2 separate regions of the Homo sapiens genome follow, and region 2 is linked to region 1. Evidence: fine-mapped expression QTL. Tissue or cell type: caudate. Region 1 holds a variant in brackets; the other region holds the start of a gene. All regions are shown on one strand. Distances are from middle to middle. Region 1 overlaps LRIG1 (leucine rich repeats and immunoglobulin like domains 1). Region 2 holds the start of LRIG1 (leucine rich repeats and immunoglobulin like domains 1).

Region 1 (15,154 bases):
CTCAGGCCTCAGTTTTCTCACTCATAAAATGATATTTGCTGATAAGGTGGTGGTTAGGATTAACTAAACAGTATGTGTCCTCAGTATAGTGTCTGGTATATACTGAACGTGCACTGAGTGTTAGACACTCTTGCTATCTCTGACAGCTTTGTACTGAGCACCTTTGGGGTTGTGGGCAAGGCAAGCCTGCTTTTGCTGCTGTGCTCTGAGGGGCATTGCTGCTGTCTACACTGAACCCTGGAGGCCGCCTGGTATTGGAGACTGGAGAGGGGTCTATTTACATCCCATAAAAATGGATCTTACTTGCAGATATCCATCATGGCTCACCCTCCTATAAACCAGTTGAAGCTTACAGAAAACCCTCGTATATGTATCTGTTCATTCCTCTTACGGGAGCTGTTGAGGACAGCAGCAGAGTTTATTTTCTCTCCTCTCTTGTCATCTTCTGTTTCTCTACCTGGGGTAGGTGCAGCAAGCAGCAAAGTGCTAGGCAAATGTTTAAGCGGTGGCTCTCACTCATAGTAGAATGACCTAGGGAGCTTAAAAAAATCTAGATGTCTACGTCTCAGGGCAGTTAAATCAAAACCTCGAGTTAGTGGGCTGGGGAGCAGAGGGGGTGAGTGTTGGGCCCAGGCGTTGTGGTGGTTTTTTAAAAAAGCTCTCCAGGTCATTTCAGTGTGCAGCCAAAAGCTTTAATAAGCCACAGCTGGATAATTGCAACTGAAAGGCATTGTTCCTCCTCTTGTCTCCTCCCCTCTCATAACTATCATTTAAAATACCCAGGCTCCCCCACCTCCCTCCACTCCTTTTTTTCCCCCTCTTTCTTTCTCACCAGGTGGAGGGGAAATAAATATTGAGGCTGGCCTTCATTTTAGTACTTAGGACTCTGGGGATCCCTAGTAGAGGTTTTAGTTTACCTCTTTTCACTGTTGATTTAATTTGAAGATACTGTGCAGTTAGCCACAGCGTGATGAGGAAGTTGCTTTGGTGGTGCGCGGGTGAGGGTGTTTGGTCTGATTAGACCTGCCCACCTTATTTGGAGATCACAGAATTCAACTGTGGATTTGCCCCTTATCTGGGTCATTCTTTCTTCTGATAGCCCACCCAACTGTCATTTGCATTCTACCTATATGTCAGAAATGTCCCACCATGATGGTGGAAAAAACTCTCTTTATAGTAAAACAATAGGCAAAACTGACTTATTCTAAGCTCCTTAAACACCTTTTTCTTTATAACTTCAAAAGTAAGACTTGGCTCTTTTTAAAAAAAAAAAAAAGTAAATAGATGATATAGAAACTGAAGGATCTCACCCAAAAGCTTTATTGTAATATAGCAAAGTTCTGGTGCTAAAATTGAGTTGGATAATTGTATAATGGGATTTTGTGAAGGTTGTGTTTGGAATTGGATGCTAGGTTAAGTTGCAAAGAGTAGAACTTTGGAAATGAGAAAAAAAATTCCCCTTGGACTTTTTAGAATGTGACTTTTCTGCAAATCAAATGTACTTTTTATAAGGGGAAAAACAGTGGTTATCAGCATGCATAGTGAAGTTTTTCTGCCTCGTAATTGTTGGGTTCTTCTCAATCGGAATGAGAGCTGGCGTGTTGAGAAAGCCAGCATGGGCTTCGTGGGCTGGGCCCGGGGAGGCCTTGGCGCAGTTCTTCCAGGGGCTCCCCTTCCCCATGGCCTTGCAGACAGCTGTGATAAACCCTTTCACCACCTGGCTTTCCTCACGGGCTAGGCTGGCCCCTGCTCTGTCTTCCTCTCCTCTAGTGTGTGTTAACGAGAACCCTGATTTGGTGATGCTATAGCAACTATTTGGTTCCAAGTAAGAGCCCAGTGCCTGTCTTCACTTTCCCCCATTCCCTGGAAAAGAGCTGTAGTCCCTGAGAGATTCAATACGTCATCAAAGGAAATGGTGATATGGCAGAGATGTGCATTCCCTGCCTTGGTGGCCTCATGGGTCACCTCTAGGAAGAGAAAGCCAAAAGGCGTGAGTTGTTGGCATAGTGGTGAGGACCAGGTGGCCTCTCACAGCGCCATCCCTTTGTGGGCATTTCAGTAGAGGGCATTGGTCCATTTTTGCTCACCTCCAGTTGGGTGCTGGAATTTCTGCAGTGGTATCTCTGCTGCAGGGGAAGCCCTCTCACCGTCCTCTTGTCGGGACGTAACCCAAGGCTCATTCCAACTCTTGGGAACTGGGAGGAAACATCCCTTCCTGGAGTGTACAGGGCCTTTTCCCCCTTGTTAGCACCAGTAGTGTTCAGAGGAACGAGTGTCAGGGCACTTGGCTTGTGGTCCCTACTCTGACATTATGGATCCATTATAGGACGTTTCACAAAACACTTCTCTTTGTGACTTCTGTTCCCTCACCTGTAAGGAGAGGGGCTGGTTCAGTATCAACCATACTCAACCAGGGTTAAAAACACACATGGCTGCTTCCCTACTGGAGGCCTGGGCTGTATGTTCTTTGGAACAGACTCACATCCCTAGTTGAGAACTGCTGTTGTGGGTGACCCTGTAGTTCTGGGGCCCCAGGTTCCTGGCAGGCTCACATGTTTATGAATTCTGTGGAGAAGGCCGGCTGAGCTGTGTGCTCTATGTTGCAGAGTCTGCGTGGAGTGGGACAGGGGGTAGCACCCTAGCAGGCCCTTCGGGTCCGGTGCCAAATCTGGGCCCTGCATCTCATCTCTACAGGGGTTCCCCAAGGCCTTGGCTCCCAAGCATCCAGATGTGGCTCTGAGGCAGCCCTCATCCCTCCCCACTCCACACCAGCCACCCAATGAAGTACCTTCATCAATATTTGACGAAGACATGAATGAAGGGTCCCTTCGTGGCTTCCCATCCTCTATGGGACAAAGTCCCAGCTCTTTCAGAGTTGGCCCTGGCTCCATTTCTTCCTGTTCTCCCACCTCTAAATTGTGCGTAAGGAAAGCCCACACTGGGTGTGTCTCTGGATCCTGTACCTGCTTCATTTTGCTACCTTGATCTGGAATAGCCGCCCCTCTTCTGACCTCCTCCCCCCATGATGTTGTGTTCCCCTCTGCCACTGCACCTATGACATCCCTCTGTCTCCTCTGGGGCTGGGGTGAGGGGCTGATGGCACAGTAGCCACGTCCGTCTTTCCTTGCAGCAGCTGCATGTAGCAGGCATCCCATCCATGTATGGATGAATGACTCTGAGGGACCAAGTGGAAGGGTCATCTTAAGGATAAGTGATTGTGGGGTATGGGGCAGACACTAGGTTGTTTTAGATACTTATTCAAGGTGGAGAGACAGGCTTGGGCACGTTATAGTAGAAGTGGCCTGCTGAGGGGTGCTGGAGGGCGTGGCTCTCCAGCCAGGGGATAAGTCTTGCTTGCCTGGATTTACTGAAGAGGCAGGCAGGGTGTCAAGGGAGAAAAAGTATTAGTGGAAACTGCCATGTGAGAGGCCGCCTGGCCCAGAGGTGGACAGGGCTTGCCCCCAGGGCTCATTATTGGGGTTTGAGTCCTGGTTCTGCCATGTTCTAGCAGCAGCTTTTCAAGCCTCTGTTTGCTTAGATGAGAAATTGCTCTTACCTTACCACAGATGTGTCAAAAAAGGGCTCTCCCAGTCTCTGCTCGCTTGTTTGAGGGGCCAGCAGGTGGTTTGGGAAAGGCTTTCTGTGAAGCGAAGGTGGAGAGTCACTGCAGATCCCTGCAGGCGTCCAGCCCATGCTGGGAGATGCCACCCGTTCCCCACTGCAGAGACGGAAGGAAAATGAGGGAGGTGCAGCAGGCTGCGTAAAAGATGACATTAAGGAGTGCCTGGATTCTAGAGGTGCCAGTAGATGGCATTGAGGGGGAAAAGAGTGCTCTGTGTTCAGAAAGTTCAGAAAACCCAGAGTTGAAGGTGAGCACCTTTCTTTCCTGCAGAACATTTCAGAGCCTTTAGTGCTTGATGTTCCCTTTGAGTCTCCAAGGACAAGCAGAGATCTTCCTAAGATCATTTCATCATAGCTCTATTATGTTTTCATTTTCTTTCAGAGGTAGGAAGGGAGATTTTGGGAGCATGAGAGGTGCTGACCTAGAGAATGATAAAATCCACTCCTCACGTTCCCCTGGCAGTAGAGAGTGCTGCTTCCCTGTCTCTAAATGCACATCCATGAAGTTTAGACTTCGCTACCACAGGCATATATTCCCCCCTCCTCTTCAGTTCTTCCTGTGCAGGCTTGTCACAGTTTGGCTTCATTTGGAGGCTGGCACCAGACCCCCGGGCTCTGCGTTGTATGTCTTTTGACCTCAAATGAGGGGGAGAGACGTGGTGTTTCCCACAGATAGTGAGTAGTGAGCCACCTGGAATACTTGTTCTGTGGGATGTTAATGGTCGTTTCATGAAAAGGATTTTGTGGTCATGTAAGTTTAGCAAATGCCAAAGCAAGCCGAGTGAAAGGTGTTGTTATCATCTCTCCTAAGCCGCTTTTCTTTGCTGACCTGCTGAGGGAGTCTGCAAGAGGCGGGGGAGGAAATGCCCCTTCCTGAGCTTGCCTGCACCCAGCACCCTTTCCATGGAACACCTCCCAAGGCCAGTATACGAAGGATGATGCTTTGGGAGTGTGGTGTCTGGCAACCTGCGTCTGCCACTTTCTGGGCATGCACGTCTGGCACGTCTTCCTTGGCCAAGTAGTGCTGGAAGAAGACACAGGGCTGGATGACAACCCCTGATGCCAGGCAAGGGCCACGCTAGCTGTCCTCAGCTTTATCAGCAACACCCTTGTCTCTAGGAGTCCCAGCCCTCAGCCCTTTCCTAAATGATGGGAAGTAATTAAACAGTTCATGCATATCCCTACATTTCAGAAATCACACAGAGCCCAGTGGTAGTTGGTGCTTGGCTCTGAGACCTCAGTCATACTGTGTAAGTTTCTGCTGGTTTGAAGGATGGCTGGAGACTAGTAAAGTAGCAGGAAGGCTGATTCCACTGGGAACTCCCCCAGACTTTCCATCTGATTCCACCGTGAATGCCATGACACTTTTGTATTGTTGTTTTAATGATACTTAGGGATAATTGTTGATTCACATGCAGTTGTAAAAAAAAAAAAAGTAATATGGGGAGATCCCTCACGTACCCTTAAACCCAGTTTCTCCCAATGGTGACATCTTGTACAGCTTTTCATAACCAGGATATTGACATCGATGCAGTCAGAATGCAGAATATTTGTATCATTGCAAGGATCTCTCCCCTTTATGGCCACAGTCATTTACTTCTTGCCCTCACACCCTTGGTTGTCTTTTGTTTTCTTTTTGAGACAGAGTCTTGCTCTGCCATCCAGGCTAGAGTGCAGTGGTGTGACCTTGGCTCACTGCAACCTCAGTCTTCCAGGTTTACGTGATTCTTCTGCCTCAGCCTCCCAAATACCTGGGATTACAGGTATGCACCACCACACCTGGCTAATTCTTGTATTTTTGTTTTTTGTTTTTTGTTTTTAGTAGAGATGGGGTTTCACCCTGTTGGGAAGGCTGGTCTCAAACTCCTGACCTCAAGTGATCTGCCTGCCTCGGCCTCCCAAAGTGCTGGGATTACAGGCTTGACCCACCATGCCTAGCCCCCCCTGGTTGACTTCTAATGTGTTCTCCAAATTTGTAGTTTTTTCATTTAGAGTTTTATATAATGGAATAATAAAGTATGGATAACCTTTTGGGATTGGCTTTTTTCACTCAGCGTAATTCCCTGGAGGTTCATCTAGGTTATTGTATGTGTCGTTCCATTCCTTTTTAATCACAGAGTTGTATTCCATAATATGGATGTGCCGTACTTTAACCATTCACCCGATGAAGGACATCTAGAATGTTTCCAGTTTGGGGCTGCTTTTAAAAAATACTGCTATGAACATTTGTGTTTGGGTTTCTTTTGTGTGTGTGAACATAAATTTTCACTTCTCTGGGATAAATGCCCAGGAGTGCAATTGACAGGTCATATGGGAGTTGCATGTTTAGTTTTTTTAAGAAACCGTCAGACTCTTCCAGAATGGCCATACCATTTGACATTTCTACCGGCAGTGTATAGGCAATTCCGTTTCTCCACATTATGGCCAGCATTTGGTGGTGTGTTTTTTTTTTTTTTTTTTTAATTTTTTTGAGACAGAGTCTCGCTCTGTTGCTCAGGCTGGAGTGCAGTGGCATGATTTCTGCTCACTGCAACCTCTGCCTCCTGGGTTCAAGTGATTCTTATGCCTCAGCCTCCCCAGAAGCTGGGATTGCAGGCTTACGCCACCAGGCCTGGCTAATTTTTGTATTTTTAGTAGAGACAGGGTTTCGCCATGTTGGTCAGGCTGGTCTTGAACTCCTGACC[T/G]CAAATGATCCACCCGCCTCAGCCTCCCAAAGTACTGGGATTACAGGTGTGAGCTACCGCGCCTGACCGTGGTGTTGTATTTTTTTAATTTCAGCCATTCTGATAGGTGTGCAGTGATAGCTCATTATGGTTTTCATTTTTATTTGCATGATGACCAATGATGTTAAGCATCTTTTCATTTGCTTGTTTGCCACCTGTAGATTCTTTTTGGTAAAATGTCCATTCATGCCTTTTGCCCATTTTCTAATTGGATTTTTTGGTTGTTTTTTGTTGTTGTTTTGCTCTTGAGTTTTGTGAGATGTTTGTATAGTCTGGATATATATTCTGGATACCAGTTCTTTGTTAGATATGTGATTTGTAAATACTTTCTCTCAATCTGTAGCTTGTCTTTTCATCTTAGCAGAGTCTTTCACTGAACAAACATTTTTAATTGTGATAAAGCCTAATAAGTGTTAAGTTTTCCTTTTATGGATTGTGCTTTTAGCGTCAGGTCTAAGAATTTTACCTGTAGATCCCAAAGATTTTCTCTTGTGTTTTCTCTTAAAAGATCTGTAGTTTTATGTTTTGCATGTAAGTTCATGATGACATGTTTTTAAAAGCCTGAAATAGGGAAGAAACTTGAAGCTTGTGGTTCCACAAAAGAAACAGCAAGAATTGCTTCTCATAGGACCCCAGCATGGACAAGGCACGGGTTGAGATGGTTCTGGGGTACAGAGAAGGGGTGCTGCAGACAGTGCCACTTTGGTGTTGTAACAAATCATTTTTGGGGTGGGTGAGGAAGGGCTGCGTTAAAGGGCCAACTCCTCAATCCCACCCATACCCATCCTTAACCCTCCCGGAGCACTGTCAGGTCATATGCTGAAGGCTTGAGAAATTGCGTGGTAAGAGATATTGTAAATCGTATGATTGGGAGATCAAAGTCTTTCAGTTGGGGCAGGAAGCAGGCCTGGTTTTATTTTTAAAGGCACATCAGTGGTATCCCTCCCCAGAGGAGGAGAGGATCTTGTCTTAGAGGCTGCAGCCAAGTGCTGAAACAGCTTCCTCCTTTGCCTGGAACTGCAGAGCTGTCAGGAAGCTGGCATGTGAATCTCAGGGAATGTGCCAGTGGCCAGTAGAGGTGAGGGGCCCATGTGTAACCTCAGAGGGAGCTTTAGCGCTGCAGCACCCACAGTCCCCTCTCTGTCTTCATAGCCGCAGGCTGTCTGGTCTGGCTTACTGTGCCACTGTCACTCCAGAGAGCGGCACAGCCTGGAGTCAGAGGATACCTATGCTTGCATCTTGGTTAGCTGGGTGACTTCATACCAGGGTCTTAACCTCTCTGATTCTGGAGTAGGTGGTGGCTTCTCTGGCGTGGTGGTAAGCAATGAGCGAACAAGTTTCTTTTGTTCCCTGGAGAGTGCTCAGTTCTGTGCCTTTATACTTACTGCCTGAGGAAATAAGAGCCACTCTCACCCACCTGTTTAGGATGGGGACATGGCCGCTGACCACTCCAGTCATCCTAAATATAAATAGAGGTGGTCTGGCTGGGCCCTCTGGCAATGCTGTGTTGACATGCTGTGGGCTGAGGGCCTGGAAGCCTACGTGTGGGTGTGGGCCCCTGGCAGGACTGGGGATGAACAGTGGCTTGCGACAGGACATTCCCCTTCTTGTTCCCTCTGTATCTGCAGAGTCAGGTCCTGCCTCTGCTCCAGTCACATGGTGTGGCCCCAGTGTAGGGTTATCCCTGTCCCTGGTGGATGCCGAGAAGAGGTGGGAGGTATGGGGTGCTATCAAGAGAAGCTGTCTTCCTCAGGTTTCTTCTGCCCGCTTCCCTGGTGAGGCAGTTCCACATCCTGACTAGGAGTGTGGGATATGGATTCCTGTTCCGGGCTCCAGTCCCAACTGCACTGCTTACTGCTGTGTAACCTTCAGCAAGTGAGTTGACCTTTCCGTGCCTTAGCATCCCCATCTGTAAAATGGGGACGGTAATAGTGGCCGCCTCTGGGGTTGTCATGAAGATTAAATGAGGGAAGATGTTAAGAGCGAAGCCAGCGCCTAGCTACTGGTAAGCACTAACAAAATGTTAGATTTGTTCCCACTGTTCCTGCCATTATGGCTACTCCTGCCACCCCTTCTACTGGAAAGAAAATGCAGTGTGACTCCTCCATAGCTAAGCATCAAGGGCAAGCTCCCTGGACATCCATGGCCCTGTGCAGCATTGGAACCACTTCCTGGAGGCCGCAGAAGCACCAGGGCTCCATTCCAGACTCCGGCTACAAAGGCCCTTTGAAGTTTGCACCACCTGGAGCAGGCTTTTGTGCCATGAGAGTGTCGGGGGCAGGGGGTTCAGGAGGAGGTTCTGTGTGGAAAACCCTCCTTTGTGCCTGGTGGACTGGTGGTGGAATGCTCAGGCCACCCTGGGCTGTACCAACCCTACACAGCTCTCCACCACACTTCTTAGTCTGCTCTGCACTTAAGGATTAGGTCCCAAAGTTCATTGTCTACGTTTTCATTAACTGCTTTGTAAATATAAATTTAATGTCACATAATTGACAGGCAGTATGCAAAATGGGGTGGGGATTCCATTATCATCGTACTGTGAGAACAACATCCTGTATTCCCTATCTTTTTTTCTACGTGTATCTTCTAGAGAGGGACAGTCATGTGAATTGGTGGGCTGTGTGCCCTGCTTTTGGTTTAGCATGGTGGCATGGACAGTCTCCAGGTGTGTGAGTGCTGCAGACCGCTTTGCCCAAGGCTGAGATGGAAGGGTGGCTGTGAGAAGGAGGTTCATTCTGCTCCCTTTGGGAATTTGGCGTGAGGTCAGCATGTTTCTCAACAGTGGTTCCATTTTTTCAGGTCCTAGTTGGTGAGGTCAGAGGAACAGAAACCACAATAGCTCATGTCAGAGCTCATTGGTCTTGGACTCCTGGGTGACCCCCTCCCCCAGTTGCTGACCAGTCCCTGTGGAACTTGGGCAGAGGAGGTCCTTGCTGTGTGAAGTGCAGTATCTCCATCATTTCACACCCCTGGGCTCGGGACTTCCCACCTCACCCTAGTTGGCGGAGCCTTCTTTGGAAGAAAACCATGCATGGCAGCCTCCTGATACCCTCCAACGTGGGTAGTGCGGACGCTTCTTGGTTAAAATTTCTGGGGTTAGTCCCTGGCCTTAAGGGACACTCTCATCACCTCATTCTTGATCGTTGCCATCTCACCTTTTCTGCTTTTCTTGTCCAGAAACAGTTGCTCAGCCCCTGGAGTCTGGTTGAATCCATGTCTCTCATTCTGTGTCCTGGTTTTCTTACCTCCTTCCCTCAAGGGGCAGAGCTGAACAGGCAGGGACACATGTGCCCTGACAATTGTAATGAAGTATGTTTAGCCTTCTTCTCAAAGGGAAATCAGAGGGGTTCAGTTCAGCTGTGCCGTACCCGGGATCCACGGTTGTGCCGGGCTTGCTGGCTCCACATGACACAGCTTGATAGCCCGGTGCTCTGCCAACTTTCAGGGTGGGGCCTGTGCTCTACGAGGGCTGAGAGCTTGTGGCGGGGTCTCGGTGTGGTGGAGGGAACACCATCAGTGTGCTGGGGTGTGGGGTAGCAGGTCACCAGGGAAAGGAAAACAAAGGGGGAAGAAAATAGGGATGTATTGATACATTTGGGGGAAAACACAGCCCTGAGAGAGAAGCAAGTGTCTATGTTGGCCCTGAGCAAAAGCGATAAATACGTTTGGCTCTTCTGACCCAGAGGTGGGCATATGTGGCTGGGAATTCTGGTGGAAGTGGCTCATTGTCCATCTCTGGCCCAACTTGAGCCTGGTTTTTCATCTCTTAGCCCAACCTGGTACTGCTTTGCCATGCCCAGATGCCAAGACAGCTGACCTCCGTGTGGACATGGAACTAACTCCTCAAGCCCCTTAGAAGTCACTGCCCATGTTAGGATGGCATAGCCTTTCTCCCTGGGAATGTGATCCATATGTGGCTTGTACAGCTTCCTCGGGTCAGCAGTGTCCACGTGGAACTCCCAGGGGAGGCGTGTGGATGGGGACCTCAGGCAGGGCCGAGCTGTGGCTAGAAGTGAGTGAGGGAGAGATTGTTGGCCAGCCTTGGATAAGCATAATTGTCTCAACATTGCAAGCCAGTGAGGGCCAGTGTTTGGGGTTCAATTGAATGTGGGAAATGCGTAAGTAACCCCCACCCCGTGCTATTTGAAAATCGAAAATCCATCGTATTCGACATTTGCTTTTAAATAGGTCTGTCAGCTTCCCTACCTTTTTTAAAAAAGTTAACTCCACGTTGTGTCTTAAATTTTTTTCTTTTTAAAAGTTTTTAATTGGATGGTTGGTCCTGCCTCAGTGTTTTTTTTTTGTTGTTGTTGTTGTTGTTTTGTTTTGTTTTTCCTGAGTAATGTTCCTTGGTTCAGGTTTGTTGTGGTGAATGTAAGACATTGAACTAAAGTTGTAATTTGTTTGTTTATTCAACAAATATTGATTGAGTACCTTTTAAGTTCTAAGCGTTATTCTGGGGGCTAAGGCTATAGCAGTCAATACGATAGACTAAAAATTCCTAGCCGGTGTGCGGTTTATATTCTACCCAGTCGAGACTGCAGGACTACTTAATACTTTAGGAGGTTTTGTTTTGTTTTGTTTTTAATTAATGGACTTTTATAGCAGTTGTAAGTTTACAGAAATGGAGTGGAAAGTACGGAGAGTTCCCATATGCCCCCGCCATCTCTTCTCTCTCCCCCTCACACACACACACACACACACACCCACCCTGTTTCCCCTATTGTTAACATCTTGCATTAGTGTGGTACATTTGTTACAACTGATGAGTCAATATCGATCCATTATTACTAAAGTTTATAGTTTACATTAGAGTTCAGTCTTGGTTCTGACAAATGTATAATCACATGTGCCCACCATTACAGTGTCATACAGAATAGCTTCACTGACCTAAAAATCTCCTGTGCTGAACCTGCTCATCTCTCTCTACCCAGCCTCTGGCAGTTAAATATTGTTACTGTCTCCATAGTTTTGCCTTTCTCAGAATGTCATACATTTGGAATCATACAATTGGTAGTCTTTTCAGATGGGCATCTTTTACTCAACAATGTGTATTTCCTTAGGAGTTTTGCTGCTGCTCTTGTTTATTTGTGCATCTTAAATGCAGAACATTCTGATAGTTTGGATTGGGTCCTGGGTCATTCATGAGTTGGGTCACTCTAGACTTCACAGAACAGTGGTGGCCAGCTGTTGATCGTACCTAGATTTTTTCGTTTCAGGGATCCGGGGCTTTCAGTTCAATGGGTGTAAGTTGATGGGTGGGAGAACCAAATGGGATCTGCTGTAGCAAGGTCCCTGGGGTTAGGTAGTCTCATGGGGATGGGACATTGGGTCGTCTTTGCAAGGAGTTAATGGAAGCTGTTTGTTGAAGACCCAAAGGGGAGGGTGACCCTAAAGGAAGTGAACGGGTTGGGAGGTTGGTTGACACAGCCCAGTCCTGCCTTTGGAGAGGTTGACCCTGCCTGGCGGAGGCTGTTTATCCCGCCACTGGGCTGCTCTTGTTTTTTATCCAGTCTCCACCTGAATAAACAGATCTGGAACGTCATCTGCAGCCAGGCTGAGAATCTGCCAAAATTCCCCAGGGAACTGGTGATTCACCAGCAGCAGGGGAAGAGAGAGGGAACAAGCAAGAGAGAGAGACCTGCTTATTCTGATTCTCATTTCCTGTCCAGCAAATAACCCAGGCTGGGCTGTTTCTTACGAGACAGCAGTTCTTTGAGTAAATGATCAATTTCTGCAATAGAACAAATGATTTTGATTTTAATTTTTAAGAAGATGGATGTAAAGCAGGCTAGAGGGAAATGGTTTCAACTGTCATTCTGAGAAGGGAGACTTTTATTCAAGTTGGATTAGGAAAGCTCTTCCGCATTCACTTGTTCTTGAAAAATGTCTCATCTTAATTTTCAAGTTCTGTATGGGCATTGGTCCTGGCACAAGTGCATTATCGTAAGCTGTGGACTTTAGCATCAACATTATTTCTTGCCAATTTTGAGACTTAGAATTATTCTTTTTTTTTTGTGATCATTAGGCCCTCACTTATTTTAAAAAATTCTACTGGACACCTGAAGAAGATTAGATTGAGCTTGGCCATGTTCGGTGGCCCCAGGCTATATTCCTAATGTGTTTTTTGGGGAGGGGTCAGAAAGGGGACATATGAGGGCAGTGGCATCTGAGAATGTGGTCAAATGAAGCAGCATGAAACAGGGCACTTGGAGCTAATGGTTTTCAGATTCATTTCAACCCTGGGGGACTTGATTTAAAAGAAAACTACCAGTGTCTGCTAAGGCCAGACATATGCAAGCTCAATGACCTGAGTAGCAATTCCATGCCTGGACATTGCACGCCTGCCAAAAATGCATGCAGACATGCACCAGAAAGCAAGTGCAGAAGACAAGTCCGTGTTCATAGCTGTGATTTTTGCAATAGCCTGAATTGGAAATAACTCAATGTCCGTCAACAATAGAAAGAAAAAATAAATTGCTGTATGTTCTGTCAATAGAAATATCGTACAGTGATAGAAAAGAATTAACTACTGCTAATGCAGCAACCCAGATGGATCTCATAAACAATGTTGAGTGGAAGTAGCCAAATAAAAAAGGGTATGTACAGAACAGTTTTGTGTCTGTACAGCACAGAAATAGGCAGAATTAATTGTGGGTGGTAGAAATTAGAGGTTTCCTTTGGGAGGAATAACAACCAGGAGACAGGAGGAGGGAGGCTTCTGGGTGCGGAAATTTTTCTCTACATTTTGTAAAAATCCTTTATATTTCAATAAAAATGTTTACAAACAAAACAACTGCCAGCATTTGGCCATATGGCCTGTCTGATAGTGCTGCAATTTTAAAAAAAATTTTTTTAAGAGATGAGGGTCTCACTGTGTTGCCCAGGCTGGTCTCGAACTCCTGGCCGCAAGCAGTCCTTCTACTGTTGGCTCCCAAAGTGTTGGGATTACAGGCCAGAGTCACTGTGCCCAGCCTGTGTCTTCTGACAAGGAGAAATCATCACCTTCATGTGTGTTTTTGAAATGGTTAATGTTTTTTGGCATTTGCAGTCATAAAGTACACCTCCTTAGGTAGGCATCAGGGCTGGTGTGCCCTGTACTAAGTTTCATCTTCCGTCAGTAATATGAGGGTCTCAGATAGTCTCACATTGTGTGGATTCCAGGTGTGATATGTTGTTAAGATACACTGTAGCCTCAGAAGGCATATGTGAATGTGTGCACGCCTTCATTCATTTTGATTATTTTGAGTGCGTGCTGTATGTGGGTGGTGACAGTGAGTGTGTGATGCAGAGCCTTGGTAAGAATTCCAGTGCAGCACCATGATGGGCAGAGTGCTGCAGGGTGTGGAGTTTGATGAAACCTGTCTGCCAGGATCACTTTGTTGGGGTAATGGGGGCCGGGGGTGTTAGATTTTTTTTCCCCCCAGTCTAGGGCTAGATTATGTGAAACTTATTTTCTAACCGGAGGTTCAGGCGAAGCAAAGAGCTATTATGTGGATTTCGCTTATTCATTAAGTAAGACGTGTTAAGATTTGATCTTGAAGTAAAACTGTGGTAGATTTGCCATTTCGGTGAGAGTCCACACTCAGATAGTTGACTGTGGACTTTGTGAATCACTGTAATTGTCTGGAAGGGCGGAAGGGCACAGCTTCTTAGATCTTAGGGATGGAGAGCTGGCCAGCTTCAGTATGTTTCAGACTAATTGGCGGAACTGAAACGAGGAAGGATATAGGATATACAGTGTGGATTTCTGTCTTCTGTAAAGTAACCCTGTTTGCCCATCTATCTTCACTGGCTCCAGTAAGGAACCTGGTTGATCTCTTGAGGAACATAACAGTGGTAGAGAGACTTATGTTCCATTTCACTTTCTGAAGAGGTAGAAAAGACATTGGCAGAAAAGACTGTGATTAGTGATGTCTGACATGGGCACTGGAGGGACAATGGGAAAGTTTTCTCTCTGCAGTTAAGAGGTATTTCCTTATTTTGCAGGTGGTTAAACGAGGTAGAGAAAGAGTGATTTATACATGGTTCCAAAATTGCATGACAGCAAGAATTAGAGTCTGGGTCTCTGCACCCCAAGAAACACAAACTGGTTGCCATAGGGTTGACAGGGTCAGCACACCACAGACAGTGGTCCCAATCCTGGCCCACTGCTTGTTTTTGTAAATAAAGTTTTATTGGAACATAGCCACACTCATTCATTTACATATTGTCTGGCTGCTTTTACATTATAACAGCAGAACTGAGTGGTCATGACAGAGACAGTATGACCCACAAAGCCTAAAAATTTACCATCTGGCCCAATGTAGAATAAGTTTGCTGGCCCCTGGTGTAGAAAATAGGTGCATAATTTCAGGGGTCAGAAATTACCCACTTGACCCACCTTGTCCCAACTGCCTTTGATCTCCTTGCCCTTTCTTCCTGGCTGTTATCTGTGACATGAGATCTTTTCCACCACTAACGGGAATACCTTGTAAACCAGGCTTTCACAGAACTGTAGTGGAACAATCACTTATGAGAAAAAGTTTTAAATGTTGGTTTCAAATGCCTCCATCTGTTTCACTGTCTAATTTAACATCAGCTCTGAAAATGTAGCCAACTGGGGAGAGCTTATCTTGCCTGCTTTCCGCCTTTGAAGACTGATTTTATTTTTGAAGCCTTTAACAGGTGTTGGTTTAATAGACTTCTGCTGTATTAAGTTCTCCTCGCTCCAGAGGGCAGCCCAAGGGGTAAACTGACACTGTGGATGGAGGCGAATGCCACGTGACCTGGCCACCACACACTTCCCCCGGTCCCCATAAGTGCAGAAT
Region 2 (15,154 bases), 69 kb before region 1:
AGAGTGCTGGTTTAAAGTGTGAGTTCTGGGCCAGGTGCAGTGGCTTATGCCTGTAATTCCAGCACTTTGGGAGGCTGAGGCTGGAAGATCGCATGAGCTCAGGAGTTCGAGACCAGCCTGGCTAACATGGAGAAACCATGTTGCTACTAAAAATACAAAAACTTAGCTGGGCATGGTGGCACACACCTGTAGTCCAGCTACTCGGGAGGCTGAGATGGGAGGATTGCTTGAGCCTGGGAGGTGGAGTTTGCAGTGGGCTGACATTGCACCACTGCACTCCAACCTGGGATACAGAGCAAGACCCTGTCTCAATAATAATAACAATAATAATAATAAAGTGTGAGCTCTGGAGTCTAATTTCCTAGCTGTGTGATCTTCAGCAGATTACTTCCTTCTGCACCTCAGTGTTCTATTTTATAGAAAGAAAAGATTTTAATAGTTCTGCCTCATAGGGCTGTAGGGAGGATCAAATGAGTTGATGCATTTGAACCACTCAAGTTATTCCCTGGTGCATACTGTAGTAGGTTCTCATATAGCTTAGCTATACGGCATGCAAAAGGTTCTAAGTGTGCATTTAGAAACTAGAATTACAATTAGGGTGGCCAATTTGTCCTGATTTTTCCAGAACTTTCCTATTTTAGCACTTGAAGTCCCATGACCTGGGAAACCCCTGAGTTCCAAACCTGGGTGGTTGGTCACTAGAAGTTTCTGACCTGGCAGATCTGATGATCCGGCAGGCTTCACCCTGACCTACTGCACTCAAAGACACGAAATCCCTTTGTCTTCCAATAGTCTGTGGCTCTGGGGCCTGCTTCCTGTGAGCTGCTTATAGCCTTGACTGGAAAATGAGGTTTGCATACAGAAAACCGTTCATTCATTTGATCATGTATTCGTTCAGTAATATGTATTGAATGCCTGCTATTTGTCAGGCACTGTTCTAGATCCTGGGGACCTAGCAGTCAACAATACCATCAGATTATAAACTCTCTGATGGCAGGGACTTAGCTAACTTGATTTTGTAAGCAGCACTGCTTAACAGTGATGGCTTCTAAGAAATGAGAGCTGGAGAAGAGTGCAAGACAATATATAAGGAGGCAGTAAGCTATGCTTTGCAGAACTTAAAGGTTAGCACACAGCTAAGAGATATAATCCCCACCACTGTCACCCGCTACCAAAGCATACCCCCAAACTCTGTATCTCAGTGTCAGTTTTATGGCTAGGATTCCATTTTAAAATATTCATTTATTTGTCCCATATGAAAAATGGAGTAAACACGTTAAGCCTTATCTGATCTTTTCGGGAAGAATAGATCTTCAATTATTTCATCCTCTCAATCAGTTATTTTACCTGGATGCCATGGGGTTACATAAGAGAACATACCTTTTATAAATAAGCAGATCCTCTGCATTTCTCTCATACCTGTTTCTAAGAGAAGTGGAAGGGAACCTGTTTTGTGGCCTGCTGAAGAACCAGAATATTTATTATCTAAGAAGTTTTGTTCGATGGCATCAGCCAGTTAGCCTGTTGCGTTCAATCAAGGGCCCTGACAAACACGTCAGGAAGGTCAGCTGATAACACTAATTTTTTTGACACTCCTGATGACGGGTTTATTTGATTAGATTTTATTCCTCCCCCAAAATCCACTCACGTTTTATTGCATGCTCACTTAGCCACACTTGTTATCTCAGTTATCTATGGCTGCATAACAAGTCACCCCAAAATTTAGTGGCTTAAAACAAGAGCTTTTTTTATTGGTCATGATTTTGCGGGTCAGGAATTTGGGAAAGACCCTTGGGGATGGCTTAGCCCTGCTCATGTGATGTTGGCGAGGCTCATTTGTGCAGTTGCATTTAGCTGGTCTGTGCTAAAAGGTCCAAAATGAGTTCACTCTCATGTCTGGGGTTATGATGCTGGCTGTTGGCTGGGCCACCCAGTTTTCTTGCACGTTGCCTCTCTCTCTCCATGGTCTCTTCTCCTCCAGGGCCTCTATTTCTAGGAGGGCAGCCTGGACTTCCTTACATGACAGCTCCAGGTAGGAAGTGGGTGAGAGACAAAGCTGCCAGGCCCAGAACTGGTAAGAGCGTCACTCTCACTGCATTCTATCAGTCAGAGCGAGGCACAAGGCCAATCCAGATTTAAGAGGGAGAGAAAATAGACTTTGCCTCTTGAGGGGAGAAACTGCTAGTGGCCGTCGGCAGACAATTATTCTATACAGCTGCCTTCTCCAAATAGTAACCAGTCAAGGCACTTCAAATAAGAAAGAGTTGCGGAAAAGACAAAGACTTTTCTTTGATTTATAGCATCTAAATCCAAGAGGAGTGTCAAGCTCCCCCAGGGAAATAAGGATATTTAAATGATTATCTAAAGAATGTAGCTCATGGATAAGAATGACAGTGAAAAGCATATAATATGTGTCTGTCTGTAGGTTTATAATAAATTTGAAATGTGTCATAAACCCAACTGTCCTTTTGGAAACAAATATAACAGGCTATAAAATTTGCAAATGCTTTTTATTAGTCTGAATGCATGGTGAAGGAAAAGAGAATTGAATGGCACGAGAGGATTTTACCAAAATCTCATGGGCAGCAGATGTTTTGCATGCGCTTCAATTTAGGTGCAATAATGTCAGCCACATGCTTGTCTTTATTTTTGAAATTACTTTTTTTTTTTTTTTTTGAGACAGAATCTCACTTTGTCACCAAGGCTGGAGTGTAATAGTGTGATCTCAGCTCACTGCTACCTCTGCCTCCCTGGTTCAAGCGATTCTCCTGCCTCAGCCTCCCGAGTAGATGGGACTACAGGCGCATGCCACCATGCCCGGCTAATTTTTGTATTTTTAGTACAGACAGGGTTTCACCATGTTGGCCAAGCTGGTCTCGAACTCCTGACCTCAGGTGATCCGCCCACCTTGGCCTCCCAAAATGCTGGGATTACAGGCATGAGCCACTGTGCCCAGCCTTAAGGTTCACATTTCTGAGAAGCTCCAGGTAATATTGATGTGGTCAGCACACATATGTGAATAGCAAGCATGTATAAAATAAAATGGGGGAGGAAAGAGGCTTGATAATTCTCCCTCCTTGCAGGGCAGGCAGGACTCACTCAGCAAATATTGTCTCTGTGCCTACCATGTGCCTGGAATTGTGTTAGACAACAGGAATACCAAGAAGGGATTTAGACTCAGTCTTTTAACTTACTTTTAACTTACTGAGCTACTAGACTGGAGGAAGAGATAAACAGGAAAAATAATCAAAAGTGAGAATGATAAGAGAGGGAGTGTGATTGGGGTAGGTTAGCTGTGAGCCTCTTCCTGCTCAGCACCTAATTAGGGTATAATGTGGGCAAGGGGATTGATTTCAGAGTTTCAGTAACTTCATATGTAAGATGACAATCTCTAAGGTATCTCATAGAATTCTTCAGTGAAATTAAGCCATGATGTGAAATAATGCCTAGCACATAGTAAGTGATCAGTAATGTTAACCACTGTTGTTATACAAGTACTGCTGGGTATGGGGGGAGAGAAAAGTCTAGATATTTATCCTTTAAAATTTTAACTTATTAATCATAGAGGGAACTTTGAAAATCTATTAGTAAATATGAAAAAGTAAAGAAATCACATCCATTCTCATGGCATCCCTGAGAAAGAAGCTCCATGATACACTTCGTAAGACATTCACTGAATATAAAATATGTGTGCTGGTGGTTGTGATGAAACTTGTGATTTAAGATTCTATTTATTCCTGATGCCGCGTGACCTTGGGACAATCACTGAACCTCAGCTTTCTCATCTGTAAAGTGGGAACAATAACAATTTTCATATTCAAAGTTTAGGAGGCTCAAATGTCAAAATAGATCTTTGGGGTTTTTTGTTTCTTTGTTTTTGAGACAGGGTCTTGCTCTGTCACCCAGGCTGGAATGCAGTGGCTCGATCTCGGCTCACCGCAACCTCTGCCTCCTGGGCTCAGGTGATCCTCCTGCCTCAGACTCCTGAGTAGCTGGGACTACAGGCATGCACCACCATGCCCAGCTAATATTTTTCTTTTTAGTAGAGAAGGGATTTCACCATGTTGGTCAGGCTTGTCTCGAACTCCTGACTTCAAGTGATCCACCCATCTTGGCCTTTCAAAGTGCTGGGATTACAGGAATTGAGCCACCGTGCCCAGCCCAAAATAGATCTTTGGTGTCCACAGAACTGGTTTGGAATCTTGGCCCTGTCACTTATTAGCTTGTGTGGCCTTAAACGTTTTTCTTAGCTCCTACCTCACTGAAAAAAGTACATAAAGCACTCAACAACATGAAAGACATATAAAAAGTGCTCCGTAAATGATAGCTGTTGTTATGATGTGACAGTGCTTTGAAAAATGTAAGGTATATGACTTCATAAGATTATTATTATGTTATGATCAATGTGCTGTTCTTTATATACATTGCAGTGTTAGTTCTGAGTGGTTGGCAGTGAGGCATAAACTTTGAATCCTCCCTGCACTCGCCCTCATGTACTTCTCGGAGTGACATTTGCAAAGGCAGCAGATTGGGAGTGAGAGGTGCGGTCTCTGGTGATGATGTAATTAGTCCATCCCATCATCATCACCGTCAGAGGTAAGGGACTGCCTCCTACAATGACCATTACTCCAGAATCTCAATCTCAGAATTATGAAATGCTCATACCTTTGACATATTTTTTTTCATCCTTTCAGTGAACCAGTAAACATTTCACATTCACAAGGCAAGGACAAGTGTCAAGGTTCTAGTTTGTGTTAGAAAGTGGACTCTAAAGGTTTTTGGCCCCTGTCGATGGTGCTCTGTGGAGGAGGGCAGATCCTGTGAAGGGTCACAGCTGAGCTGCAGGCAACAACCATTCTTGCTGTGGAACTGCAGCAGCTGCAGCTTGGCACTGTCTGGGCATTAACCAATATTCCAATAGCCAGAGATTGCACAAGAAAACTACCTCCACCAAAGGCAAATGTTGGAATGGGGGATGGGGAGATCTCAAAATCTTTCTCTTTTTATATTCTATTCCCAGACTCATTAGCCTCCTCTCTTACCTTCTCCACCCATCCATCTCCTTGACAAGATTATTGCGACGAAGGAGTTAATGAGTACACAGTTTTATTTTCCTTGGAAGAGAGATAGAAAACAGGCTCAAAGCAGGGCTGTCATCACCCTGCAAGTCTTCAGGGGTTTCATAGCTAATTATTAACCCTTTGTCACATTCCTGGACAAGAAACTTTCCTGCTGAAACAACCTGCTAAGATTTTCCATCTACATTATACATATGGGCTCTCAGTTTTTCAGAGTTAACAAATCAATAACACCTTGAAAACAATGAGATGTAAACAGTTTATAATGCCCCTTTGGTCCTTTATCAAAATGATCCTTCTTTACTCACTCAGCACCCAGGTCAAGTACCATTATCCTTGTTTTCTATTTTTCTTTTATATATATATTTTTTTTGAGATGGAGTTTTGCTCTTGTCACCCAGGCTGGAGTGCAATGGTGCGATCTCGACTCACTGCAACCTCCGCCTCCCGGGTTCAAGCGATTCTCCTGCCTTAGCCTCCCAAGTAGCTGGGACTATAGGTGTGTGCCACCATACCCGGCTAATTTTTGTATTTTTAGTAGAGATGAGGTTTCACCATGTTGGCCAGGCTGGTCTTGAACTCCTGATCTCAGGTGATCCCCCCACCTCGGCCTCCCAAAGTGCTGGGATCACAGGCGTGAGCCACCGTGCCCAGCCCCTTGTTTTCTATTTGAGAAAACTGAGGCTCCAAGACAGAAAATGACTGGTCAAAGGTTTCACCCATAACAAGGCCTGGCTGGAACCCAGCTCTCCTGAATGGTGACCTGGTGCTTTTTTAATGTATTGAACACAGTGTAAAATCTCACCTAACATTAAGAAAGCCCCTCTGAATCTCAGCATTCTTTAAAACCACTAAAGACCACCACCTAGAACTATAGCAAACTGGCACAAATTCAGTCCCCAGGAAGTTGTGTTAAAAAAAAAAATTCCTATGGTTAACCTTCTTTCTTGTTATTTTGTTATTTGCTTCTCTCCCCAATAGATTTCAGGCTATTTAGATTTTGGGTTCCTCTCTCAAGCATGATTAACTTAGGATGATTAACTGCTAGGGCTTCTGGAGTCAAGAGAGACCTGCAGAGATTCTCACTGGGGTTTGATTCCATGCTATCCCTGGGGTAGATGAAAATGAACTGGAAAATCTAAAATCCCCGGATGACTCATTTAAGGAATAAGCATTTAGAAAGATCAAAGTTGCAGTGTGAGGAAAATAAGGACCTACAGCACCCAAATCAACTGTTGCTCTGTGCTGAATGGACCAAGACTTGCACTTTTATGAGCAGAGACATAGATTCCCTTAGACATTTGCTGTTGTTGTTGTTGAGATCTCCTTCATCTTAGGTGGTGGCTGCAGATGAATTCCCCCCTGAGCTGGATATCACTGCTCTCCAAGTTCACACTCTCATTGCAATCACAAGCAGGTTGCTAGTATGTGGGCAAACTTCCATACATGGTATGGGGAGCAGACATGACTTCATGCTTTGCTGTAGACGAGAGGAACTGCCAAGGCTTAGGCGCCCTGTCCCCCCAAGTGTGCCCCGGCTTTGGAATCCTTTTCTCTGGCTGCATGGTAACCAGACCACAAGGGATGCTTTAGATTTGTGGGCACTCCCTCACCTTGCAGATTCTTAAATTCTATCCTCCAGAAAACTAAGATTCCAAAAAGGCATCTCACAAGTACACCCATACACATTTGAAAAAACATTTTACAAGAATTACCCACTTTTATAGTACTAGAAATGAGACAAACCTGAAAGATAATTTTAGGTCAGCATCTCAAGTAGTTCAATCAGTTCAATTCATTTTTTGCTGCATATGCTGTTTTATTGTGGGGTGGGGACAGGGAGGATCTGACAGTTTCATTTCAGGAAACGGCTGTGGGTATTCTGCATCAAATTACTGTTTTGTGTTCTTTGTGTAAAACTTAAACACTGACTGAGAGGACTTCATAAATTTAGGGTCTTTTTAATTCCATTCCCACTGCTTATTATTATTATATTTACCAAAAGGGATAGAACAAAAGGACATATTTCTTCTCGTCCAGATGGAAGGTGTATGTTTATTTGGATTACATATGAAACATAAAAGCTGGTTAAAGCTCTGGGTGGGATGGGTCAGGTGCAGCATTTTTCTGATAATATTTCTTGGGAATTAGATTTGAATTGATTTACCCACATATTTGAGCACTGCTTTGGGCATCACTGCTGAGATCATGCAAAATTAAACAAGAAAAAAATGAGGCGCAATGAATTCAGAAGGGGAAGAAGGAAAAAGGGGAGGAAGGGATAGGAAGATCACATTTTGGCTAAAGAAAAGAGGTGATCTTATGGCTGAGGGAAAGTTTAACACATTTAGTGCATCTCAATTAAAGCAAACCTCTTAGATTGTGTCGAAAATGGAATAAACCCTTTAATTTTTTTTTTTTTTTTGCCTTTTTTCCCTAAGGTTCAACTTCTCCTCTTTACCTCCCACCCCACCCCACTTCCATAAAACACAACTCAGATTTAATGTTCTGGAGCAAATGTTTTTCAACAGACTTGACCTGCTTAATCTTCCTGACAATGTGCGCAGTTATGTTAGTAATTTGCATACTCTTGGGAAGGGATATGAGACACTAGCAAACCAAAACGCCCAGAGGGCAGCTATATGTTACAGTGGTAATCTTTTTCTTTTTTTCTCAATGTGTGTATGTCTGCTTAATGTTACCACGTACTATCGTAACACACTACTACTATGGTCTGATCTTTAAGAGCAAAAGTTAGAAGCTTTGTTAACTATTATTTCTCCTTTAACTCTGTCTCTTACGAATACACAATGGCTTCTTGAAAATTATCTTAAAAAGACTCTGATTAAAACAAAAACCCAATGACAACAACAAAGCAACCCCTTTATCAAAGGCTGCAGCATTTCTAGAAGTACCCTTCAACTCACTAGCTGGGAAGGAGAGTGCACTTTTTTTTTTTTTTGAGACGGAGTTTCGCTCTGTCACCCAGGCTGGAATTCAGTGACAATTCAGTGACAAGTCTCTGCTCATTGCAGCCTCCGCCTCCGGGGTTCAAGCAGCTCTCCTGTCCCAGCCTCCCGTAGCTGGTATTACAGGTGTGCACCACCACACCTGGCTAATTTTTTTATTTTTCATTTTTAGTACAGACGGGGTTTTACCATGTTGGCCAGGCTGGTCTCGAATTCCTGACCTCAGGTGATCCGCCCGCCTTGGCCTGCCAAACTGCTGGGATTACAGGCGTGAGCCACCACTCCTGGCCGAGGGTGCACCTTTGAGACTAGGTTTCTGCAGCACACATTCATTTTAGTAATCAAGGACATATTGCTGGATTTAGGACGTGAAGAACAAGTCAGGAGCAGATGCTCCAGGCTGCTCGAGGAGGAAGGGGACCACGCCTAATGAAATAACCAAGGATGTCCCAGTCAGGAAGAAATGTGTTAAGTTTTAAACCTGTGTCTTCGCTTTTGGAAGGAACCTGGAAAACGGACGCGGGTTTGCTTCTAATCTGCAGTCCTGCTTGCAGCCTGAGGAGGACGTAAAAAGCCTTGGGGCCAGACAGCCCCAAAACGGGGGCGTTTTACCCTCTTAACTTTCTCTCCCCTTCTTGACGCAGAGGGCGTATCTTCACGCCTCCTTTCCCCAGCCCGCGTTCCCGTTCTCCAACAACAACCTGCGTGTCTCCTTTAAGAGGCGGGGGCCGTCCCTCCCTTTCTCCTCCCAGTCTCCCGCCCTTCACACCTTGGGTGGGAAAAGAGTGTGGGGGCGGGGTAGCCGGTGAAGCGGGAGGGGCGGGATCACAGCGAGCGCTCCAATGGCCCTCGAGGCTGGCCACGGTGGACTCCGGCAGCCAATGAGCAGCAGGCGGGGAGGCGTGGCGGGGCGCTGTTGCAAAGCATCCAACGTGGGCCAGCAGGCGGCCGCGGAGCGCGGAGCCTAGGGGGTGTGTGCGGGCGAGCGGCCGGGGGCGGGGCTTGGGGGACCGGCCGGGGCTGGGCCGCGGGGAGGCGAACAGCAAGCGGCTGATTGTTCGGCTGCGAGGTCGGCGGGACTCTTGCTGCGCGGAGGAGCCGTGCGGAACCCGAGGCTGCGCGCGCGCGCGCGCTCTCTGGCCGCGGCGTGGGGACAGCGAGGCGCACTGGGGCCTCCCAGCGCGGGGCCGGCCGCGCCGTCCAGCCCGAGGTCTACGGCTTTGCGCTCCGAGCCCAGAGGAAGATGCCTGCCGGCACCGAGCTCGGGCTGCGGGGCTGAACGCCTGTCTTCCAGGCGCAGCGGCAGCACTGCCCTCGGCCGGTGTCGGTAGCGGCACTCGGCGTGCCCCGGGCGGACGAAGAGCGCAGGCTGGGTACACCTTGCCCGAATCGGCGGAGTTCGCAGCTAGCGCGGGCGGGCCGGCCGGCCCGGATGGGCGCGGGGTTTGCGGCCCCCGCCGGGTGCTCCGGAGCGGCCCGGGCACCGGGGGCACGCTGAGTGCCGGAGCCGCGGCCGCAGAGAGAACTTGGGGCGGGGGCCATGCCCCGGTGCGGAGTCTAGAGCCGAGCGGAGCGCCCCGCGGGCCCGCCCGCGTCTGCGGCCGTTCGGGTCCTCACAGTCCCCGCGCCCGGAGTTCGCAGCGCGCTCCAGACAAGATGGCGCGGCCGGTCCGGGGAGGGCTCGGGGCCCCGCGCCGCTCGCCTTGCCTTCTCCTTCTCTGGCTGCTTTTGCTTCGGCTGGAGCCGGTGACCGCCGCGGCCGGCCCGCGGGCGCCCTGCGCGGCCGCCTGCACTTGCGCTGGGGACTCGCTGGACTGCGGTGGGCGCGGGCTGGCTGCGTTGCCCGGGGACCTGCCCTCCTGGACGCGGAGCCTGTGAGTGCCGCCCTTTCCGCCCTCTCTGCGCCCCGGGGCTCTGTCACTTGGGGATGGAGCGGCGGGGGTTCGTACTCAGGGAGGGGGTGCGGACTGGGTTGTGTGTGTGGAGTTGTGCGTGCTTGTGCGTGTTGGAAGACTGTCAGGTTGGAGTGGCGGAAGGGAGATTCTGCGTGGAGGTCCGGGGGAGTAGGCGTGCGAGAGAGCCTGGAGAAGAAGAGCGTGCCTCGTGGGGTCTGGAGACGAGCGAGCGTGGGTCGTAGAGATTTGGGGGTTAGCCAGCACGCGTCGTGCGGGCCATCTGGGGGTGAGTGAGTGGGAGTCTGGAGCTGAGTGTGTTTGCGGGTGGGTGGGTGGGAAACGTCTGGAGAAGAGTGTGAAGAAGTCTGTGGGGGTATGTGGGTGCGTTTCCTTTTCCTCTCCTGTAATCCAACTATTTGGTGTCTGAGCTCCTTGGTCTTCCAGTGGGTAATGAATGAAGGTGACTGTTGGGTCCAGTCTTTCGTTTACATTATTTATTAGTTGATAGTGTGTGTAGCCGTCTCCTGATCCCCGAAGACCGTGGTGGCCTGACTTGCCTCTCTGTGCGGGGCAGAAGGCAGTCTTCCCCCGAGGACCCCTGAGTTAGAGGGCTTTGACAGTTCCTGGCGACCTGTGAGTGCTGGGAGTTTGTCCTTTTACGCCTGTTTGGCATTTTACGGAACTGTGTTCCAGACCCTTCCTGTGTGTTCCCTGGGGCCCCATTGGGCTTGATGATCCAGTGGGGTGGGGCCCACCCTCAAGACTCTCTCCTCCATAAATGGTGCAAATGAGTTTTGGAGAAGTGCTGCTTCAGGAGAGGGTGCCAGGGGCTTGGCTGATTTAAGCTGTTTGTTTCACCCGAAAGAGGTTCTTTTCTGTGCTGTCAGGATGTGGGCTTATTAGGACTTAGTGGGACACTTCTTACAGGAGATTTGACAGGAAAAAAAAGGCATTAGACTTCTGTGTAAACATGGTAGAATAGAATAGTCTTCTTTTACTTCTAACAAATCTGGTGCATGAGTCAAATCCCGTTCAGTTATGGGTAATTAGCATCTCTGTAGAACCATTAGTACCTTTCCAGAAAAGGCCTAGCTTAAATAGTCCGCATTTCGGTTGAATAATTGGACATTTTTCCTAGAACATAGGAAAGGCACAGCAGTAACCTTAGGCATGACTATGGCTGTTTTAAAAAGAGAAAACTGGTGTCACAAGTTGTAACCAGCACCTGTGGCTTGATCGAAGAAAATGTGGCCTGTGTTCTGACTACCGTGAAGGGAAGAAAAGTTAATTCCTTTTAAATGTAAAGATCCTGTACCTCTCAAAATGGGGCACGAATCTTTAACTTGGCCCGAGACACTGCTCCATGAACAAGTACTACAGAGTTCTGAAGACAACCAGGAACCCTTTAGTTACAGTTAGGTTTTCAATATCTACTTCTTCTGTGGAATTTACTGAGTTAGTGAAAATCAGTGGTCGTAGGGTGGAGGCAGAGCTTTTGTGAAGTACTGGGAGATAGAGCCCAGTATTGTCCTTAGGTAGTCTCTTATTTAGTCTGGGGTATTGTGATTTTTCCCTTACATACGGTAGTTTTTTTTTTTTTTTTTAAATAGAATCATGTGGGCAAAATCAGATTAACTTCTTAAGTGTTCACCTGTTGGAAGAGTGACTCCCAATGCCATGTGTCAGTGGCATTGTGGGGAAAGCACTTAGTTCCACAGAAGTAACTTCCCAGAGAGGGCAGGGTGTCCTCTTATTTGCACTTTCCTATGGTCACAAGATCCACTTTGCCTTGCCCTTTAATTTTTGGAGCAAAACATACTGGTTATTTCTTTAGGCTTTCTGTTGCCTAGGAGTGACATTTCACATGGCATAAATACCTTCAAAATTGAAGTCCTTCTCTTTTACTCACACATTTGATGATCGAGAAATACCAAAGTGGGTATTTTGAGCATCAGTAGACTTTAGTATACTGATTATGGTGTTGACTGATTCGATTTTAAGATATGAGCAGCATGATTTCTGGTTAGTATGTAGCAACACAGTATGCAGTGCAAAATGGCTATCCTTTGAAAAATATTTGTGAAGTTTTCTTATTTCTGATTAAGGACAAATCAAGCAAATGTGTTCTTTTTTTCTAGACTTCAGACTTCTGAATTTAAATCATTAGTCTCCGTGAGTCTTATTCTGGAATTTCCATAAGAGTATTTATATGGTTTGTATTCCTGGCTAAGATTCAGCAAGACTTTAGGGGAGAAAGTGTCTGTATATGATATAATGAAATATCTTGTAGTTTCACCAAGTTTACACGCTCTAAGCCCACGGTGTCTAGAAAATGCTTTGAGCTAGTTTATAAACCCATGAACTGGATTTACTGCAGCTAGTTCAAACAACTTCAGGCTGTGGGTTTGAGATAGCAGAGGACCTGTGGCTTTATGGGACCTTTTTTTTTTTTTTTTTTTTTTTTGTAAACAGTGCGTCTGATGTGGAAGTTGCTTCTAGGCCTGATATAAGAAAAATAAAACTTTTAAATAGTGAATGTAAATGCAGTGTGAATAGAAGAAACAGAATGGATAATGATAATCGGTTCATTTTTGGGGCCTGAGGATAACTTTTCAGCACAATAACTTACAGTTGTAGTAGTCAAGCCATAATTTAAGTCTCCCAGCCCATTACGTAGGTGAGATTGGCATGGTCCAACTAGCACATTCATAAATAGCACCAAGCCACTGCCAAGCCTTATTCCAACTTCCCAGAACCTGAGAAGAAGTTGAACTTCTTAGAACTCAGATATTTGCTTTCTTTGAAATTATTTTTGAGAGCATGGCTTCAGAAGCTATTTAAGAAGTATTAAATACAGTTTACCTTAGACTCTTACCTGTGCCGTAAATTTCAGCAGTGTTTAGTCACAAAATGTTGCTAGTTTAAATGTCCTGAGAGCTGAATGGTAGCCCATTGGGATTGGGATTAGGATTAGGAAGGCAGGCCTAGAGGAAGAACAAACCCTGATTTTTGTTCTCAGTGTGGAGTGAAGATGACAGAGCATTCTAAAGCAAGGATATTCACAAAAGTGTATACCAAGTGTGGTTATCCTAAGCCACATTAAGATGAGTTTATTGATTTTGATCTCTTTGTACTATGTGTTTGCAATACCAGATCAGTTAGCTTAAATCTAACCTTGCCAGTTTTGGCAAAGAAGTGGTACTTATGATTACCTTAGAAAATAAACACCAACTGTGGTTGCCATTGTGGTTGGGAAGCAAAGAGGGCCTTTGTCTTTCAAATTTTACAGCTGTGCTGGAAGGCCCAGGTGTGCAGGGTGTTGTGAATTAAGGGTTTGGAAAATACTTTCCATCCTGTTTATGCAAATTAAGTTTAAAGTGCAGATCACCAAATTGTTCTGGAACCTAAACTGAGATTCATGTTTTTTTTTTAAAGTAGATTGTTGTATGGATGGTCCTGAAATATTTCCTTCTCCATATCACTTAAACTCAACAGACTTTGAAACAAAAGTCTTCCGATTTGTGGGACAGGGAAGAACCTGGGTTGTTTGGAATAGGGAGCATTTTAAACACAGGTTAATTGCCAAGAATACAGTCTGAAAGGTGCAAGTGCTCTTAGAGTTTCAGGGAACTTTAGCTTGAGCTCAGAGTCCTTTTCTTTTGCAACAAGTGTCTTCCCTCTTGTTGGGGGATAACTTGTCTGTTGATAGCTCTCTGACAACTTTTTTTGAGTAAGGTGAGATTTCTGGCAAATAATATTGGTTGTCGTGAGAAAAAGGCACACTGTTTAAGTCTTGCTGATATGAAATTGTGGCCGTAATATCTATTCTTTGAGTACTGCTAAAGTAGGAAGTGTCCAGAGATTCCCAGCGCCCCATGTAAATTAACTGTGTATTGGCACACAATGTCCCTCTTGCCTTTAGGACATGTCAGAACTGTTCCTGCCCCGCTTTTCAAGGGACTGTTTTAAAAAGTAGTGTATTGTCTCTTTGCATAATTATATTTGGTTACTAGATTTTACAGACTTTGGACTTTTGAACATATTATCAGCAGTAATTCTCGGAACCATCTTCAGAAAGATGAAGAAAAATTAAGTGTAGTGTGATGAGAGCTGGTTCCTAGTGGATGTCCTCATGTCCCATCTCCCCAGCTCTGCACCGTTAGCTGAAAGCTTTCCTCCCTCCAGTGTTAATTACTTTGCCTGGGTTCTCCCTGCAGCTTCCCTGAGTCCATTGGGACGGCCTCTGGCTGACCTTTCTCTCCCTCAGACACCATGATCACAATGAAAGGGCCTCTCCCGCTTCTGCAGGGGTGTCTCCTTGGTGCAAAGTCTTCAGCCTCCTCTCTTTCAGGGTGGACAGGAATGCAGGAGAGAGCACTGGGGTTTTGTGTGACTTAACAATGCACCTGGCCCAGTGCTGTGCACCTGCTAAAGCCCTGAAGGTCTGTTAGATAGGAAGGCTGGGTGGAGGTTGTTTAAAATAGCCTATAGTTATTTAAAAAGTGGCATGCACAGGAGAGGGAAATCTAGAAGAGGGATTCATTGAATTGAAAGTTGTTATATGCAGTAAAGGATGTTGGTTGTATCAGAGTCTTTCTTTCTTCTTTTCCTCGTTTGTTTAAAACATAAAAGGGATTCCTCTGACCTACCCCATAGGTAGAAGGACTTTAAGTTTCACGAGCAAGCCTAACTTTCAATTCCTTTTGAATGAGCTATGTGACATTTACTCACTGGGTACGTTCCCCCTCCTCAGTGACTGCAATTTGAAACCCTGGGGGTCTTTTAAAAGCGAACAGAACTCTGGGCCGTGTTAATATTCAGAGCTGTTTACAATGGATGCAGTTTCAAAGGCTGATGGCATTGTCTTGAGACAGGAGGGAGGACGGGTGGAGGAAAAATTCCCAGGCAGGGAAGGGCAAATATCTAAAAATCTCCAGTGTTTACCAGCCTGTGGGAAATTTAGGGACCGTTACTGTTATTTTTTATGACTTAAGCATGACACTGAGCCACTAGGGTTCATTCTATCTACCTCATGGCTTCAGTTCTTGTATGTCAGTTATGTGGTTATCTTGTGCTTTTGTTTCAAGTTAAAGTGTGGAAATTGGTAAGAAACTCAGATCTTATCTCCTCTGGAAAGAAATAGAGCACTTTGAAGACCAGTGGTTAACATTTTTATAATAGTTTACCTCTGGGACCTGCATTTATGTTTTGC

What was found.
Region 2: LRIG1 starts here. The variant in region 1 is fine-mapped to the expression of LRIG1 in caudate (GTEx, PIP 0.98).

What each region holds. Positions count from the first base shown.
Region 1 is chr3:66,425,684-66,440,837 of GRCh38, reverse strand. The region is part of intron 3 of LRIG1 (leucine rich repeats and immunoglobulin like domains 1); the gene reads left to right. Among named protein-coding and RNA genes, the nearest start is that of LRIG1, 68 kb to the left of the region's middle. RefSeq lists enhancers at 3,943-4,532, 4,533-5,123. The variant T/G (reference allele first, on the strand shown) is at 6,306.
Region 2 is chr3:66,494,957-66,510,110 of GRCh38, reverse strand. It overlaps LRIG1 (leucine rich repeats and immunoglobulin like domains 1), which reads left to right and starts at 9,089. Exons shown (of 19, transcript NM_015541.3): 1 at 9,089-9,921. The coding sequence starts at 9,704. RefSeq lists silencers at 8,720-9,379, 9,400-9,539, 9,580-9,659, 9,680-9,889, 14,112-14,406 and enhancers at 8,992-9,492, 9,493-9,993.